2 linked regions of the Homo sapiens genome follow. The protein of the gene in region 1 interacts with the protein of each later gene in a biochemical or structural test. Each region holds a gene or a part of one and is shown on either strand. Other genes may lie near its edges.

The links. The genes of interacting proteins can lie anywhere in the genome.
Region 2: the proteins of GRB14 (region 1) and FGFR1 form a complex in vitro, tested with the Homo sapiens proteins (one study listed by BioGRID).

The regions. Positions count from the first base shown.
Region 1 is NC_000002.12:164,523,866-164,527,520, forward strand, and holds part of GRB14 (growth factor receptor-bound protein 14), read right to left. Parts: intron 3,271-3,655; coding exon 3,149-3,270; intron 1,214-3,148; coding exon 1,139-1,213; intron 1-1,138. UniProt on the Homo sapiens protein: Adapter protein which modulates coupling of cell surface receptor kinases with specific signaling pathways. Binds to, and suppresses signals from, the activated insulin receptor (INSR). Potent inhibitor of insulin-stimulated MAPK3 phosphorylation.
Region 2 is NC_000008.11:38,413,601-38,416,751, forward strand, and holds part of FGFR1 (fibroblast growth factor receptor 1 isoform 1 precursor), read right to left. Parts: intron 2,461-3,151; coding exon 2,270-2,460; intron 1,302-2,269; coding exon 1,179-1,301; intron 1,030-1,178; coding exon 959-1,029; intron 690-958; coding exon 552-689; intron 424-551; coding exon 318-423; intron 205-317; coding exon 28-204; 3' UTR 1-27. UniProt on the Homo sapiens protein: Tyrosine-protein kinase that acts as a cell-surface receptor for fibroblast growth factors and plays an essential role in the regulation of embryonic development, cell proliferation, differentiation and migration.

The DNA.
Region 1 (3,655 bases):
GCAAAAGGAGGCGGAATAAAAACTCCATCCCACCACTGTGTTGTAATACAGTGGTGAAGCATTCAGAGGGCTGAGATCTGAAAGTCCTGGGGCACAGCTGCTGCTGCCATTTACCTAACATTTTGACAGGGTGTCTCTGTAAAAACCCAGGAGCACAGAAGCAGCTTTTAGAAAAATCTCTGGGGACTAATCATGTTTCAAAAATATTCTGAAGCACAAAAATGAAATATAACCTATTAAAAAGCCCACAGAAAAATCCATGATAGCTCTGCCAACCTAATATTTTTAAGGTCAAACAATACTGGAAATATTAAAAGTTGTCTTCATTAAAGATCAGGGGATACTGAGTGGGTTTGGGGATGCATGGGGCTGAGCTCAAACGGCAACCATTATAAAGACATTGCTCAACATTAACCTGTAAAAAACAACTGTAGAGCTTCTGATGTAAAATCTACAAATCTATCGAAAATTAAAGAAAATAACTGAAATTATTCATTTATTGTAATGACAATGTCTTTGAAAATAACCATTTCAAGCCACTGCCAGTTTGGAAGAAATGAGTCCAATAGACACAAAAATAAGGAGATTTTTAATTAGATAACTAGTATTCTTAATTCAGCTAAGAATATTTCACAATTCTATGCAAGGATTTCCATAACAGCTATTACAAACGCTAGTGAATACATTTGCATCCTGTATCTTTTATCTCCTTTCATTTATTTGCTAAACATTTTATTACAAATAGGATTGAGGGTGTTTATTATGAAAGCTGATACTGAGTATCTATTGGTAAGATATCTGTATTTTACAAAGAATTCTGATTTTTCTAAAGACTAACATAATATTTACACACATCACAGAACAAAATTGCAAGTTTCCTTTTAAGACACACATTTTTAAATATGTAAAATCCTTTGACAATTGGCTAAAACTGGGAAGAAGAATATTGTTAAAGAGCTTTATTGATTTAGGACATTCTTTGCCTGGGTGCATTTTTTTTTTAGTTTTACCTCCAGCAAAAAATATTAATAATAATTCAAAGCATAACTTTTCAAAATCTGGGCATGTATAAAAAAGGACTTAAAAGTTTTCCTTCATTATGCTATTATTTATATATGTTAATAAAAATATATTTTACCTGCAAAATCTGTGTGGGGGATATTTCACCATTGGTTTCAGTTGCAAAAGATACCATATGCTCTGGAAAAAAATACTGTCAAAAAGACACAGTTAAATTATCACAAAATTCATGCTAGAAAAGATTCAATTATGACCAATATAGTAATCAAAAGCAAAAGTTCTTTAAACTGGTGTGACTAAAATTCACCCAAAAGTGCTTTTGAAAATGCCCGTCCTTAGACTCTACTCATAGGTACCTTAATGAGAATGTCTGGAGTTGGGCACAAAGATTAGCAAATGCCCCCAGATAATGCTGATGTGGATGGATTCAAGTATCTGGAGTTATAAAACACTGCCCTGAAGTTGACAATGTGCTTGCTCCCACATCTTATTCCTGAGTCCCGCAACCAGCCTATCAGGTCAAAAGGACTATCCATGACATTTTACAAGGAACAGGCTCACAGAAGTACAGAGTTTAGGGTATGCCCAAGGTCATAGCCCACAGCACAGTGGAGGTCAGGACTTAAACTGGGCTGGGAGCTAAAAGTCCAGTTCTTTCTACCTACCATTTTTCCAAACTTTTTAATCATAAAATTCACCCAGGGCAGTTGTTTAAAATAGGAATTCCCAGGCCTCATTCCTGGAGTTTCTGATTCAGTAGATCCGGGCAAGTCCTGGATTCTATGTTTTTAATAAGCACTCTCCCCTCAGTAAATTTTATGATTAGACAAGTTTGGGAAAATATATTCTACTATATTTCCTCTAGGACAGGGTTTTTCAACAGTAGTTCTACTAACATTTTGGTCTAATAATTCTGTGTTGAGGGGGGGCACTCCTGCATATTATAGATGTTTAGAGTATTCCTATCCTCTGCTCACTAGCAGCCCTCCCCTCTACTGCCAGTTGTGACAACCAAAAATGTGTCCAGACATTGTCCAATCACCTCCCAGTTAAGAACCACTGCAATAGGTCTACAAAACAAATGTCCAGCCTTGTTTAAATAAAAAATAAATAAAAAACAAGCATTGAACAATATTTCTTTAAATATATCTTTTTAAATTCTTGTCTTTAATAAGGACTCACAACAAAAAGAAACACTTTCTCTTCACAGTTGAATTTATTTAATTTTTATTATGACTAATTTTCTTTGCCAAAGATCATCCCATTATGTTTCTATTAATAGGTTAAGATAAAAGACAACGTGAGAGGTCTTTCAGGGTTTGAAAATATTCTATTATGGTGTGTATCATATATTTTTCATAAAGAATCATTTCAATCCAATTATCATCCAAAACTTAGTGTAAAAATATGCTTCAGCTGCAGAGACAAAAACAATTTAAAATAATGAGCCCAGAGGCTATTCTGACTTTTCTAGATCCCTAGTCTTCATTAGAATGTGACACACATTTATTTTCTTTTAAAGAGAACTACAATGAAAGTAGTATTTACTAGATAATGCACTGGTCTTTATCTCATTTCTACTTAGTTCAAAAATTACTGCACCGAAAACAAAATAATTTGGAATAGCAAGATTCATGTCAATCTTAATTTCTGGCTAAGTTATAATACTCTCAACAATCATTAGTCTGCTTTTACTTTAGAAAGCTATTTAAATTTCCTAAATTCTATAGAAAGTGTTAAGATATAATATTTTGCTTAACACTTGTTCCTAATCTGGGTGAGAACCTATAGAAATTCATTTCCCACATCAAATGTATAATTGTTACCTTTTCACAAAAGGCAAAACTAGGTTTCCTAATACTTTTAAATTAAATAAACCAAATTCATCTCAATTCAGACTTTACCAATACGGCTTTAAAAAGTTTTGCACCTGTGTATCTGAACTTCTGTGTATAATGTTCACTAATCATTGTTAGCATAAGAAATATGGGTATAATTTCAAAGGACCAGAGTCTTCATCTACAATTTACCGAATAGGACTGTATTTTATTTACAGTGACTATCTTCTTCACATAAAATTTAACGGGTTCATTTATTTTCCGTAACTATTAGGAGGGATTTCACTTACCATTGGGTTTTTAAAGAACTCATATTTGGCATAATTTTTTCTAAAGTATAGTTTGTTTTCTTCTTCTATCCCCCAGTTGGATAGCACTTCAATCACCAGTTCGTGGTCTTCTATTGTTCTTTCTGTAAAGAATGTTTCAATGAGTATGTTGACAGATAGACAAATATATATATATATATATATATATATATATATATATATATATATACACACACAGACACATACAAACATATAAAATGTATTACGCATCTTTGTTAAACATAGCAGATTTCAACTTAATTATGAGATAGCCAGATTGATAAAATTTGTCATCAATTTTCAATTACTAATGTTCATTTTTATACCAAAGCAGACTGTTGTCTAGAAAGAAAAAAATGTATAAAATATCATAATGTACTTTTTGTTATCTCAATTTCCTTTTATTACTGTGTAAATAATATAAGTTTGATAACACATCTGCATTAAGTATATGGGAACTATTTTTTTCTCTGACTCATCATGGTGCCA
Region 2 (3,151 bases), on another chromosome or scaffold:
AGTCTGGGGAGGGCGTGTGGGTGGCAGTCAGCGGCGTTTGAGTCCGCCATTGGCAAGCTGGGCTGGGTGTCGGGGCAGGCAGGGCTCCTCGGGCAGCGGCTCATGAGAGAAGACGGAATCCTCCCCTGAGGAGCACGTAGAGCTCCGGGTGTCGGGAAAGCTGGGGGAGTACTGGTCCAGGGGCATGGACAGGTCCAGGTACTCCTGTGATGGGCGAGAGGAAGCAGCGATGGGCCGGGCCCCTCCTCCCTGCTCAGGGAGGTGCGTGCACGCAGTGGGGACGGCCTGAGCTCTGGCTCTGGCACGGGCAGCCTTACCTGGTTGGAGGTCAAGGCCACGATGCGGTCCAGGTCTTCCACCAGCTGCTTGAAGGTGGGTCTCTGTGAGGGCACTGCATGCCAGCAGTCCCGCATCATCATGTACCTGCGGCAGGACTGTAAGGTCAGGGACGTCTCCTGGAGATGGATACTCTCTAGTCTAGCCCCCTGCCCCTCAAGCCCACTCTTGCCCCAAGGCCTGGCTCAGGGCCTCCGACATCTCCTCGGGCTTACAGCTCGTTGGTGCAGTTACTGGGCTTGTCCATGCGGTGACCCTCCTTCAGCAGCTTGAAAAGTTCCTCCACAGGCACACCGGGGTATGGGGAGCCGCCCAGAGTGAAGATCTCCCACAGGAGCACCCCGAAAGACCACCTGCAAATGGGCGGAGAGCCACAGGGTGTTAGAGCTTCTCCGCCTCCCCTCCCCCAGCACAAATCCTCTACCCAGGGCAGTGCCAGGAGACAGCATGGAGAACAGATCAGCCTTTCAACATCTGGAGCAGAGGGAATGGCCACAGACAATGTTTTGTTTTTCTCTCTGGGGCAGAAAGAGGACTCCTCAGTCCAGGGAGAAAGCAGGACTCTACAGTGCTAGAAGCTCTCTATCCCACACCTCCCTGGCAATTGCTATTACAAACTCACACATCACTCTGGTGGGTGTAGATCCGGTCAAATAATGCCTCGGGTGCCATCCACTTCACAGGCAGTCGGCCCTGAAAGCAGCACAGGGGAGGTTGGAGTGGCCCCAGGCAGGGCCATGAGGGCACAGGTGGGAAGGGACTGGGGGGTGGGTTCTCAGCCCACCCCACTCCTTGCTTCTCAGATGAAACCACCAGCACAGGGCGGCCTTGTCGGCACTCACGTTGGTTGTCTTTTTATAGTAGTCGATGTGGTGAATGTCCCGTGCGAGGCCAAAGTCTGCTATCTTCATCACATTGTCCTCTGTCACCAGGACATTCCTGGCTGCCAGGTCTCGGTGTATGCACTGAGGAAGGAGGAAGGGAGAGCGGGAGGCGGGGAGGTGAGGGAGCTGGAAGGCTCTGGGCGGCCGCCACCCATGCAACTAGCCGACTTGTCTCATAGAACTTCTGCCACACTGCTCTGCCCCCCGAACCTTTGCTTTCCCTCTTCTAACATTCTCTGCCAGCTCCAGGCTTCTCATCACAGCAAGCGCTCCTCCCTTCCTTCCCCAAAGACTGGCCCCTTATGCCTCTGCTGCGTCTGCAGCGATGCATGCTCCTAGGTCCTGCCTCCCAGCACAGCAAGTCCACATGGGGCTGGGCTCAAACCAGGCCAGCCCTTACACACCAAACACTGCACTCAACACTCACAGACAGTTTCATTTTATCTTCATAACAATTCTACAACAGGTATTGTTATACTTTATTTTCTTTTGAGACAGGGCCTTGCTCTGTCGCCCCGGCTGGGGTGCAGTGGTGTGATCATGGCTCAGTGCAGCCTCAAACTCTTGGGCTCAAGCTAGCCTCCCACCTCAGCCTCCCGAGTAGCTGGGACTATCGGCACGCACTACCACACCCAGCTAATTTTTTAATTTTTTTTTTTTTTTTAAAGACGGGGTTTCAATATATTGCCCAACCTGGTCTCACACTCCTGAGCTCAAGCAATCCTCCCGCCTTGGCCACTGCACCCAGCTGATATTATTATTATTTTGTATTTGAAGAATTTTAAGATGCTAAGTAGCTGCCTGAGGCTACGCAGAAAGTGGCAGTGCACAGATCGGACCCTGCATCAGTCTGACCCCAAGGCCACCTGGCTACACTGGTGCTCCTGACTCTGCAGTTCCCAGAGAGCCTAAGACAACACACAGGGCACACAGGGCCAGTGCTCAGTGCATCCACAACGCCACCACAAGATGATAAGTCACAGGCTGGAAGACTAGGGGGGCTCTGTTCCCACCCTGGCATTACCCAGGGGAGCCTTCAGGTTCCACACCTTCTTGGAGGCCAGATACTCCATGCCTCGGGCCACCTGGTAGGCGCAGGACACCAGGTCCTTGGAGGAGAGCTGCTCCTCTGGGTTGTGGCTGGGGTTGTAGCAGTATTCCAGCCCTGGGGGCCTCCGGGCCTGCAGGTACTCCCGCAGGTTGCCCTTGGAGGCATACTCCACGATGACATACAAGGGACCTGCAGGCACAGGAGAAGAGGCCATGGGGCCAGCAGCAGGTGAGCAGGTTTGGCTTCACCTCAAAGAAACCCCACCCCCAGCAGCACACCCCGGCCAACCTCCCATCTCCTGCCTCCTCTTAGGGGACCTGGGAAATCCATTCTACTACCCAAAAAAAATCAGAGAAATAATTACTCCCAGCATAGTCCAGAAAATTCCCGAGCAACATTGGGGTAAGAGCCCCAGTTTGTCTGTTTATTTTGAGATGGAGTCTCACTCTGTTGCCCAGGCTGGAGTGCAGTGGCGCAATTTCGGCTCACTGCAACCTCTGCCTTCTGGATTCAAGTGATTCTCCTGCCTCAGCCTCCCAAGCAGCTGGGATTACAGGCATGAACAATGCCTGGCTAATTTTTTTTTTTTTTTTTTTTTTTTTTGAGATGGAGTTTTGCTCGTTGCCCAAGCTGGAGTGCAATGGCGCGATCTCGGCTAACCGCAACCTCCGCCTCCCGTGTTCAAACGATTCTCCTGCCACAGCCTCCCGAGTAGCTGGAATTACAGGCATGCGCCACCACGCCCGGCTACTTTTTGTATTTTTAGTAGAGATGGGGTTTCACCTGTTGGCCAGGCTGGTCTCCAACTCCTGACCTCAAGTGATCCACCCGCCTCACCCTCCCAAGGTGCTGGGATTACAGGCGTGAGCCACTGTGCCTG